2 separate regions of the Homo sapiens genome follow, and region 1 is linked to region 2. A link means that fine-mapping ties the variant in region 2 to the expression of a gene that starts in the linked region. Tissue or cell type: amygdala. Region 2 holds a variant in brackets; the other region holds the start of a gene. All regions are shown on one strand. Distances are from middle to middle.

What was found. PIP is the estimated chance that this variant, and not a neighbour inherited with it, causes the effect.
Region 1: it holds the start of LINC01963, and the variant in region 2 is fine-mapped to the expression of LINC01963 in amygdala (GTEx, PIP above 0.99).

What each region holds. Positions count from the first base shown.
Region 1 is chr2:216,214,825-216,218,824 of GRCh38, forward strand. LINC01963 (long intergenic non-protein coding RNA 1963) reads left to right here and starts at 2,065. Exons shown (of 1, transcript NR_037701.1): 1 at 2,065-4,000.
Region 2 is chr2:215,779,745-215,788,106 of GRCh38, forward strand. The region is part of intron 1 of LINC00607 (long intergenic non-protein coding RNA 607); the gene reads right to left. Among named protein-coding and RNA genes, the nearest start is that of LINC00607, 60 kb to the right of the region's middle. The variant C/T (reference allele first, on the strand shown) is at 3,833.

The DNA.
Region 1 (4,000 bases), 430 kb after region 2:
GTGGTGTGGCTACCTGCTGCAGGTTCATTCTGTTCTTTGGTGGGATCCTTATGGCCAAGGGACTTGGAGCCAATTAAACATTCTAGGCCAGATGAGGATGGAGGTGAACAGGCACTCATTAACCCTTAAAAACCTTTTGAGCAACAGAAGAGCCAAAAAGCAAGGTTACAACAGTGACTTACCTGTAAGTTCTATGTGACGAGTCATCAGCTGTTTAGTAACCTGTATGACCTGTTAACCATTTTTGTAGCCTGTGAATATCAGATGTTCATTTAAGTCAGAACCTTAAACATGTGGATATTTTTGCCAACAACTCAGAAGCTAACAAAACAGCTAACAACTTAGCTGTTTTCATTGAACCAACAATATTAAATTAGTCTTATTTGTCAAAAAATTCACACAAAGATCATTCTCTTTTTGACTGGGTTTATAGTCTTATAATCTTTTGTGCCAAATCCTGATACCTTAAAACACCTAGCGGAGGCAAATATAAAATAATCAGTAAACCCAGACTAAAAAAAAAATGTATGCTGACAATTCTGAAGACATTTCTAGTTTTATTTTACCAATAATTTTAAAACCATTTTATTTACCAGATTACTAAGTTCACATGAATCTGAAAAGTATTTGGACTTACTTAATTTATGAGTATAATTTACTTATAAACCAGTTTGGTACCATGCTAGATACAACACAACATAATACATGTTCATATACAAACATTTAAACACATACACACAAAGATCTTACAGCTTTTACTCTGGAACCTTAGCCATGAGATGGTAATACAGACTCACCACTTAACAAAAGACAGCTGGATCCAAATTATTTCTGACAAAATTGGGACCTGTTCACATGGCTAAACTTTATTTGTCCCAGTAGGTAATCCAATGAAGGCTATGGACCAAAGTCTTGGGAAAAGTAGTTTTCATGGCAGTTTTATTTTTAAAAACCTTTTACCCCTTTTTTTTTTCCTGAAGTTTCAAATGAGTTTTCAGTGTTTACATTTTAGCTACAATTGGCTGAACTGTAAAGAAAGCTCCAAGTAGCCTTGAATTAGTAGTATCATAAACAATGAGTTTTATCTTAACAGCAGTAGCTTAATAACAGCAAATTCAAAGCAGGCCGAAAACAAAAAAGAGATAGCTTTAGAAAACTCTACATTTTAATTGTATAGTTGCAGGTTGGGCATTTGAGCTCTGAATTTTCCTTGCTGTAATTTGCCCGTTCAGTTTTAAAATGTGCACAAGAACAGGCCACAATATGCAGCTAGCTGAAGTGCTGGAAAACCTGGCATGCCTTTGAACTTCTACAGGAGTTCCTGCCCCTAGTGGGTAAGTTACCTATTGCACTGACTTTATGAAGATATCTCTTCCAGTGCCCTTAGTGTGAGCATCCCCACAAACCTTATGAACCAGTTGAATCCAACCTGAATGCCTCTCCATAAGCCCGGAGCCCACAAATGCATTTTCTCCAGGGCCCTTGGATGGAGGGAATCAGGAAGGCCTCCTCCAAACCCAAGGCTAGGAGAGATGTTCCCTCCGGGGTCCAGGGAGGAGAACAGAAAGGACTGAGAAGAACTAGGAATGCCCTCCCAAACCCAAGGCCAGCAGGAGGGTCTCCTCCGGAGTTCCACAGATGGAGGAGGCCTAAAAGAAGAAATCAAGTCTGCAACCTAAAAGTGGGAGATCTTGGATTTTGATAGCACTTACCCAGATCCTTTCCCAGCATAGTCAGGAACAACTGGACTTTTTCAAAGGGACCTTGGCTGTACCTGGTGTCCTGGGTGACACAGGAAAAGGAATTCAGGGGCTGCTTCAGAATCCCATCTTTGCCAGATACGTTAACTTTAAAAAAAAAATCATAAGATACAAATTTAGAAAAATGGAGACACTATTTCTTAAGGGTGACAGCCTGCCAGGTGGCCATCCTGCAGGCCAGGAAGCACAGCCTCCTCCAGCAGAAGCCCAGAGACAGGCACCTCCAAGGAGGAGGGGTTGGGGTAGGAGTTTTATGCTTTTATGCTGAATGGGTTGGCTTAACACATATTCAACAGGTTACAGGAGGAGCTATGAATATTAATGAAAGTGGTCCTGATGCATGCATATTAAACATGCATCTTACATATGACACATGTTCACCTTGGGGTGGAGACTTAATATTTAAATATTGCAATCAGGCCCTATACATCAAAAGGTCTATTCAGGACATGAAGGCACTCAAGTATGCAATCTCTGTAAACCCGCTAGAACCAGTCATGGTCGGTGGGCTCCTTACCAGGAGAAAATTACCGAAATCACTCTTGTCCAATCAAAGCTGTAGTTATGGCTGGTGGAGTTCAGTTAGTCAGCATCTGGTGGAGCTGCAAGTGTTTTAGTATTGTTTATTTAGAGGCCAGTGCTTATTTAGCTGCTAGAGAAAAGGAAAACTTGTGGCAGTTAGAACATAGTTTATTCTTTTAAGTGTAGGGCTGCATGACTTAACCCTTGTTTGGCATGGCCTTAGGTCCTGTTTGTAATTTGGTATCTTGTTGCCACAAAGAGTGTGTTTGGTCAGTCTTATGACCTCTATTTTGACATTAATGCTGGTTGGTTGTGTCTAAACCATAAAAGGGAGGGGAGTATAATGAGGTGTGTCTGACCTCTTGTCCTGTCATGGCTGGGAACTCAGTTTCTAAGGTTTTTCTGGGGTCCTCTTTGCCAAGAGCGTTTCTATTCAGTTGGTGGAGGGGACTTAGGATTTTATTTTTAGTTTGCAGCCAGGGTCAGTACATTTCAGTCACCCCCGCCCAGCCCTCCTGATCCTCCTGTCATTCCTCACATCCTGTCATTGTCAGAGATTTTACAGATATAGAGCTGAATCATTTCCTGCCATCTCTTTTAACACACAGGCCTCCCAGATCTTTCTAACCCAGGACCTACTTGGAAAGGCATGCTGGGTCTCTTCCACAGACTTTAAGCTCTCCCTACACCAGAATTTAGGTGAGTGCTTTGAGGACATGAAGCTATTCCTCCCACCACCAGTAGCCTTGGGCTGGCCCACGCCAACTGTGGAGCTGGAGCGGGAGGGAGGAGTACAGACATGGAATTTTAATTCTGTAATCCAGGGCTTCAGTTATGTACAACATCCATGCCATTTGATGATTCCACCACTCCTTTTCCATCTCCCAGAAGCCTGCTTTTTAATGCCCGCTTAATATTATCAGAGCCGAGCCTGGAATCAAACTGCCTCTTTCAAAACCTGCCACTATATCCTGGCTTTGTGACCTCAGCCAAGTTGCTTGACTATTCTCAGTCTCAGTTTCTGCACCTGTCAAATAGGGTTTATGTTAACCTAACTTTCAGGGCTGTCAGGATTAAATGAGCATGAACCACATAAAATGTTTGGTGTATAGTAAGTGTACAGTAAATACTTCCATTATCAGTCCCTGCAATTCTATTTTTCTTCCTTCTCTACACAGCCCCTGTCTGGCTTTAAAATGTCCTGCCCTGCTTTTTATGAGTGGATACCCCCAGCCCTATGTGGATTAGCAAGTTAAGTAATGACACTCAGAGACAGTTCCATCTTTGTCCATAACTTGCTCTGTGATCCAGTGTGCATCACTCAAACAGACTATCTCTTTTCTCCTACAAAACAGACAGCTGCCTCTCAGATAATGTTGGGGGCATAGGAGGAATGGGAAGCCCGCTAAGAGAACAGAAGTCAAAAACAGTTGGGTTCTAGATGGGAGGAGGTGTGCGTGCACATGTATGTTTGTGTTTCAGGTCTTGGAATCTCAGCAGGTCAGTCACATTGCAGTGTGTCGCTTCACCTGGCTCCCTCTTTTAAAGATTTTCCTTCCCTCTTTCCAACTCCCTGGGTCCTGGATCCTCCAACAGTGTCAGGGTTAGATGCCTTTTATGGGCCACTTGCATTAGTGTCCTGATAGAGGCTTAATCACTGCTCAGAAACTGCCTTCTGCCCACTGGCAAAGGGAGGCAGGGGAAATACATGATTCTAA
Region 2 (8,362 bases):
ACCACAAAAACCTGCAACCTTTCTTTACTTCACAGCAAGCACTTGGGACCTGAACAAAATAATCGAGATCACCATTTGTGTTCTCTACTTCACATGCCTTGGGCAGAGGTGCCCATTAGAACCTGAGACTCACTCTCTGTAAGGAGGTCCACCAGGGTCCACTGGGGATGGAGAGCCACCTCTATGGCACAGAAGTTGTCTTACCAAGAGCAGCACAGGCCAATCCCAGCAACCTTCAGCTAAATCAGGGACTTAACAGAGCAGCAAGCACCCTCTTGGTGTCTTCAAGGTGTCAAAAGCTAGCTTTGGAGAGCATATACTGCAAAGAGAGGGTTGGAGCAGGAAAGGAGAGAAGTAAAACAAAGAAAGCCCCCTGGGCTATGTAGGAAACAATGCCAGCGACTCACTGAAGTGGCCCAGAAGCCCTACCACATTAGATTACAGAAAAGGAAAGCGTTGAGGGAGTGTTTTACGATAGCAGGAGGGTCTTCTGTCTTTTGTGCACAGTAAAAGATGTGGACATGTCCATTTGGAGGGTGAAATAGGATGACACTCAATGGCTCTGGAAGAAATGGAGGAAGGCAATTCAGGGCTTGGGCAGGGGAAAACTCCAGGTAGAAAGAGAAAGATGCCATCACGGCAGGGGGCAGGAGAAAGTCCCCCTTTAATAGCAATGACAGCAAAAAGTTGACTTGGGAAAACAGGTAAGAAAGATAAAGTTTTGGAATCAATTTTCTCAGCAGTATGTAAGCTGACGTCATCTTCAGGGAAATCCGCGTTACTAATCAGCACCTCCTAATTCCTGCCCTTGGTGGATCCTCGCTGTTTAGTCTTTTTCCTCAGTCTTTCCATATTTCAAGTACTGTGAGATCTTACTCTACTAAAATTCAGGTTCTTGAAGATCCTAAGTCCTTTGCCCTTTATTTCATTCTTAGTGAAATTATTTGCTTCTTTATATACAAGCAAATTTCTAGGTCAGAATTCCTTCTTGAAGATATACAATTATTTTCCCTCTTCAATTAGAAAATGCTGTTTTCCCAGCTGTTTTTAAAGACTAAAACCATAACAGACTTGAAAGGGCTCCTAAGTCACAAATCAAAATTTATTTCCATCCAGCTTAATGCTATCCAAACATGTCTAGTTTTTGTCTCTCTTTGCATTTAAAGTTTTCATTTTATCCAAATGAAGTAGTTGGTGGTTCTAAAGTGGTTTTGTGCTCAATATAAAGTTTACTTTTGTTCAAGTCTTTTCTTTTCTGGCCTTAGTACTAGGTTTTCCAGTTCACTTATAAAGAAAGCTATCCAACTATTTTTGGAAGAACAATGCATTTTGGTAATCTACCAGGATGATTTGATGTTGAAGTTATTGCAGCTCTTCAGATATCCAAGTCCTTGTACATGATCAATTAGAGCTGAAAATGAAGTCGAAATGTTCCTGGCATGCCAAGTACACTGTCACTGTTGTAGAAATAAGATGTTTGTTGTTACTTTGTTGAACACATATTGCCAATCAGTTTGGGAATACTGAAATTCTGTATGATTTTTCAGTCATTGTCTATCATTTTAGAGCAATCTATTGCTTTCAGAATTGAAGCTCAAGGCACGTTAGATTAAAGGAAGTGACTTTTGGAATCTGAACAAGAAAATTTTCTAGGGCAAAATAAAACATACAAAATCACTTCTTAGTAATTTCTTCATTCTGTCAGAGACATTCTATATGACGTCTTCTTTTGCTCTGTTAATTGAAGAACTGGCAATCTGGGGCACTTTCCCAAGTAATAAAAATGAGAGAATTACAGCCTAGGGAAGTGAAGAGGAAAAAGAGAGGTAATTGTACTTGAAAGCACAGCATTTGGCCCACAGTAAACCATCAGTAATGTCTATTGAATCTTGCATAACAACAAGAAGGTTGAAAAGAATGATATGAGAAATTGAGTCAAAAAATTAAGAAATAACCACTTCTGAGTAAGAACCTAAATGAACATTTAAAAAAATTTCCTTCCTGTTACTATGGCTTTGAAAGTCTCTAAGTAGGAGGAAGGTCTTAATCTTATTCTGATGATGCCTGAATCCCTGGCCCTCAAACTAGTCCGCCATTTCTTCTGGCCAGTATTGGGAGCTGGATGTGAGACAGAGATAAACAGCATGGCCAAGGAGGGACAATAATACAGTTAGTTGTAGAAGCTGGGCCCAAATAGGGCATAGAAAAACAGGGGAAGACAATGACCTTTTGTTTCCATTAGAACTATACTCCAGAATTCATAGTCCCAATAGGTAGAGATACCTATTCCTCACAGAAGAAAAGAATGAAATAAACAGAATTTTATTTATTATATACATTTTTACATAAATTCAAATTTGTATTTTTGTAGAAATTCTCCCTTTTCCACCATTTTTTGATCCCCAATCAATCCTAAAGTGGAACCTAGAGAAGAATAAGTTCCCCAAATAAACGGTGGGATGGGCAGATGAGTAGAGGCCAAATCTTTTTTTCAGATTCAGGAAAGTTTTAGATATTTCTAAAATGTCCCTCGAGTCTTTCTTGCTCATCATAATAAAAACAAAAACAACAAAAATACAATAGCAACACATACTATATGCCAGGCACTGTGACAACTGTTTCCCATGTAAAAGCTTATTGAATCCTCCCAACCACTAAGTGTAATAGATACTAGGACCTCACTTTACAGATGAGGGAATTGAAGTTCACAGAGGTTAAACAACTTGCCCAGGATTAAGGTTACACAGCTAGGAAGTGGTGAAGGCAAGATTCAAATGCAAGCTGTGGGAATTCAGAATATGCTTTCATTGTAATGGGTGTGCCCTCTTCCCACTGTCCTAGTTAGAGGTCACTTGGATTATTCCCTTTGGCTCCAAAATATCTGTATAGAAGCTCCTCCCCAGGAGTCTCCAGGGGTCATCGTAGGTTACAGAACATTCTGTACATTGCAGGGAAGTTTCTTCTGAGGGGCCCAAATGATGGGGCTTGAGCCAGTGTTGGTATCGTAACCTCTCAGCCATTAACTGGGTGGCCAATGAGAGAGAGCTGTGGTGCAGGCATGCAAAGTTCTCACATACACGAAGATCAGGAGGTCTGCTGGGGAGGCCTCAGGTTTAGTATATCTCTTGTGTGCTCAAACAGTGCCCATCACAGCAGATCTTCCTCCAGGACTGGAGCACCAAGCTGGCATCAGACCTATTGTTTAAACAACTCTCTAGAATCAGGTTTTAGGCAACAGGTGCCTCTGATCCAGAGCCTTTCCTACTTTTCCCAGGATCCCTTCCCATATGCTCTTTAACTGAACTTTGATAGGATGTTTCACCCGGAAGAGTTTAGAATCCCACTAGTCTAGATTCAAACCATGGGCAACCCTGCGTCTCCACAACCTAAGACATAGGGAGGGCTCAATGTTCAGAAGCACAATGCTCTACCTCCCCTCCCAGGATGGGAAAGGAAAAGCTTTCATTTGCAAGACAGGGTCAGGGGTGTTGGGAGAAAAGAACAGAAAGAAATGAGTATTCATATTAAAAATGTAACCCTTGGCCATGCTACCTCTGGGAGACCCTGATATTAAACTGATCTAGGCAAGATGAGAGCAAAACTCCATCTACCCAAAGCCTGCATACAACTTTGTGCTCCCATAACCTATTTGGCTGCTCTGCCACAGTGTTTATTACGCTGCATTATGTAAGCCTGTCTCCCCATTAGACTGCACAGGAACTAGAGCAAAATGGACACTCAATAAATGTGAAGTAAATGAAGAAATGTGCAAATTCGGCTGGGTGCGGTAGCTCACACCTGTAATCCCAGCACTTTGGGAGGCCGAGGCGGG[C/T]GGATCACGAGATCAGGAGATCAAGACCATCCTGGCCAACATGGTGAAACCCTGTCTCTACTAAAATACAAAAAATTAGCCAGGCGTGGTGGTGTACGCCTGTAGTCCCAGCTACTCAGGAGGCTGAGGCAGTGGAATCGCTTGAACCGAGGAGGCAGAGGTTGCAGTGAGCCGAGATCACGCCACTGTACTCCAGCCTGGGGACAGAGCAAGATTCTGTCTCAAAAGAAAAAAAAAAAAGAAATGCGCAAATTCACAAGATCTCACAACAGAAGAGCTGCAACATCACACTTAAACTCCTGACCTGTTGTATGGAGTCATTGATTTAATTGCTGTGCTGCATTTTAGTTTGAGTCCATACTTTCCATATAAACATTTAATCATCCATCCATCCATCCATCATTTATTCATTCATTCATTCACACTGAATGCATTTTTTGAGTGTCTACCATGTGCAAGCCACTATGCTAGTCTCTAGGAAACTGAGAGCAAGCCAAAACAGGACATGCTGAGGACACCAGAGCAAGATTTTCCCCTATATTTTTCACAAAGTTGAAATAAAAAAGAAGAAAAAAATACAGAAATAAGTTAAATAATGAATAGTAGCTGCCAGAGAAAAGACTGGAGATATGCTCAAGGGAGAAAAAAAATGTCTTTCAAAGGTGATTGGAAAAGAAAGGCATTGGCAACACAGGGAAAAAAAAACAAAACAAAAAAAAAAAACAAGGAAAGACATTCTAGAAGGCAGGGAGTTATAAAATAGATCCTTAGTAGTGAGAAGAAATAAGTCTGCCAGTGCATTCTTATATTGCTACGGGCAAAGAAAAAGGGTGCCTGACTTGTCTGCATATTCTCTGAGAAAGTCCAGCTGTTCTCTGGAAAGCAGAATGCCTGCCTCTGGAGTGGAGCTGAGCCTTGCAAACTGATTAAAAAAACATGTACGGTCAGAGAATAAACACAAAGCTCAAGGATGTCTTGCTGTGTGCACTTTATGGGCACAGAGTACTGCTGCTCCTTTAATATAAAGCTATTATCCACAGTTGCTGACTCATGTTCCTAAATTCCACAAATGTCTTCCATTTTGTAGCACGCTCCTAACAGGCTTTCTATCCTTCCTGTGGATATCTCATCTGAGTTTGAGAGTGAGGATCCCAAAAGGAAGAATCCCAAGGGGAGTGTCCAGAGAGCAAGTGTTCCAAGAGAACCAGCCAGAGGCTGCATGTCGTTTTATGATCTAGCCTCAGAAATCACACAGTGTCACTTCTACCATACTCTATGGGTTCAAATGGGCACAAACCCACTGAGAGTCGAGGGAAAAGGACATAGACCCCACTTAAAGACAAGAGGTATGTGAAAGAATTTGAGGCCATATATTAAAACCAACATACTCACCAACTTTTTTTTTTTTTTTTAAATAGAGGACCTGATGCCTGGAGCTGCAGCAGCCATCTTGTAACCATCAGGAAAAACTCGAGAGAATCCCAGAGACACGAGTGCTGGCAATATGGAGCTAATGAACCAATCAGAAAACTGCTACCTCCAGACTTTTGAAGACGTGAGAAAAATTAACTCAATATTTGCTCTAGCCATTTTTAGATGCATTTGTTACTTGCAGGCGAAAGCCCTTCTAACTGATACACTACCTCCAGAGACAAGTAGTATAGACTCAGAATGTCATTAACAGATCTGGACGTGAAGGAGGCATAGAAATATAGAAATAAGATAGTGTTTCAGTCTTTCGTTACTGAGTTTCCATCAGTTCTGGCTAAGTCTCAGAGAATTTCAGAATGCTGCATAATTAGAACTAATTGACAAATTTTCCGTATAAAACTCATATAAAAATGCATTATTCCTAAAAATTGGTGAAGCCCTTCATGCCTACAAAGCACTTCCTGGTCTTCAGCCCCACAACTGGCATAGTTGATTTATACTCTTATTCCCATTCAGTCACAAGCCCCAGCAGTTCAGGAAATAAAGACATTTGTCTCTTCCAAGAAATTATACCCTTAGAAAACAAACCCTGGAAGAAGCACTGAGATTTCAGAAGGATGAAGAAAAGTCAAGAACTCCTCCAAATGTAAAAGTGAGGAAAAGCTCAAAAGCAATGGGTACCTGCTTCTTCCTACAGTGGGTGCCATCCCTATTCTGTCTAGAACACAGACACACACACACACACACACACACACACACACACACACACAGAGTCTGCTCCAAGAGTTGTTTTCTGAGCTCACCTGCCTGAGTTTGCCGAATCATCTATTTAACTCACGGGGCTAAGCACATTACCTCTTGCAATATGTGCTCATTGTATGTGTAAATGAAGTTCAGGAAAGAAATTAACTCATCATTCAGAGAACAGTTCTCCATAGTCAGTCCCCAACAGTAGATTCTGAGCCTGAGAAGACTTACTTCAGAAGTTGCTCTAGAGTTTAATATAACTCCAGTATGTGCCATTTGCTTCTGAGACATATGGAGTGCTTTGAGCTTCCTGGTCACAATAGAAAATGCAGGAATTGTTTTCAGAGAAGCTTCTGCTTCCCATTAGATAAAGCGATTCATTATCCCCATGGACATTTCAGCGTGTGCTCAGACCTCACACCACAGGATCCTCCTGTGGGGAGTTTCCACAATTGACTTAGTGAGGGCCAGCTTTTGGGCTGTGCTAGATCCATGGTGAGACACAGCTCAGAGCATCCGAACTCCTCCCTTCCAGCTTGCAGACCCCCCGCACTGCTCTGCTGGGGAAGCCCTACTCTCCAGATCTCCAAGAGAAGGTACTTTATTCTGGCATCCTTTATCAGTCCCAAGGTTACCAGCTAGGACCTTGCATTCCTCCTACTCTTTGCAGGCTTTGAGAGACCCTCAGAAGTATATGGTTCAGGCTTCTAACCCCACTCTTGGGTCCAACAATGCTTTGGAGTACACTGGACTGTAAATCCCAAGGCTGGTGCCCTGAGCACTATAACAAAACAGAATGACTTTAATATAAGGCAGAGTTTTATTTTTGAAAGTAAACAGGGACACACAATTGGACTCTTTCTAAAGCTTCCAATTTTCTCAAATTTTCCATTTGGATGATATGCATTAAGCCCATCCTTAGTGACCCCAGCTGGTCATTATCATTACTAACAACAAAATATAGCAGATATTTATTTGGATAATGATGCTGACTCAGTAGTCTAGAGGGAACACGCTTATGAAGGAAGGAGCTGCAGTCAACATTGTGCAAGTGATCTGCTGCTAAGCCTGAATGGGGCAGGACTGAGGTTCTGTAAAGAAATTACACTAGCTCCATTGTAAGGTGATGGTAAGTATGTGTGTGTGTGTGTGTGTGTGTGTGTGTGTGTGTGTGTGTGTATGCAGGTGCACATTTGTACTTTATCCCCTTAGAGGAAATGGAATCTTTTATTTTGTGAGGCATTCTGTTTTGCTGTTTTTCTAGCAATACATAAAGCTGTCTTATTCTAAGAAGGTCAAAGCATTTTATAGACATTACCTCAGCAGGCCATGCAAGAGTCTAGCAGAGTCCGCATGGTCAGGTATTATTGTTTCCTGAATCAATGTCCTGCTGCAACTCCTAAAAGGGCTCTTGAATGCTAACCAAAGTAGTCCCACCACTTCAAAGCTCACAGATGCTTAAATTAGACTTGAAGGTGAGGGTTCAAGGGAGGCGTTTTTCTTGGTTTCTAATTCTTGCCATCTGGTCTTAATCTGACTCCAGAGAGAAGCAAGCTGGCGGGTGACAGCTTAGAGCATGGCTAGTCTTTAGAAATGCCACCCAATCCTTTTCTGCATAATTGGTACCAGGATTTGCATAGATTTGCATACATTATGTATCTATCAGTATTCTTTTAGATCCCATTTAGAATTAAATTAATTTTGCTATATTTAAGATGTCATTCTAGGTGGCTTTTTCATTTTCTTTTTCAGATGGTTGTGCTACCTGCCTTTATTAGCCATTGCTGTATTGGGGTTTCCCAATGAAAACTGCTCTGTCAATAGCAAAGCCATTCATTTAATAAATACGTGTTGAGTAAATGAGTGAAGCCAAGATCTTGACCTGTCCATCCCAGTTATTAATCCTGAATCAACATCTTTAAGCTTGCTTGGGCTAGAGAACAATTGAATGTCTGGCTAGATGTGGGGAGCAGAACGAAGGCAAGGGCTACCCACAGGCTGGCCACGGAGAAGATGGACGGCATGTCTGATGCCTCAGGCTGTAGAAGTGGGGCTGTCTTGAGGCTATGGCACTTCCCCTTCTAACATGCCCCGGGTACTTTGGGCACACTCATCTGTTCCCCTGTCGTCTCCTCCTTTAGAACTGGGGTGGAAGAGAATGGGAAAGATAATTGGGATAAAGCAAGGTTGGAATTTGCCTGCTCAGTGACAGGCCATCCTCCTGTGCTTAGAGGGCCTTGCTGATAGTAATTCATGTTGAGACACTCTGCTCTTATCTTGGACAGCACTGCTTTCTTCTCGGCTATCTGAAGCCTTCTAGAAAAGCATTAAGTTCCCTCAAACACACTCCCC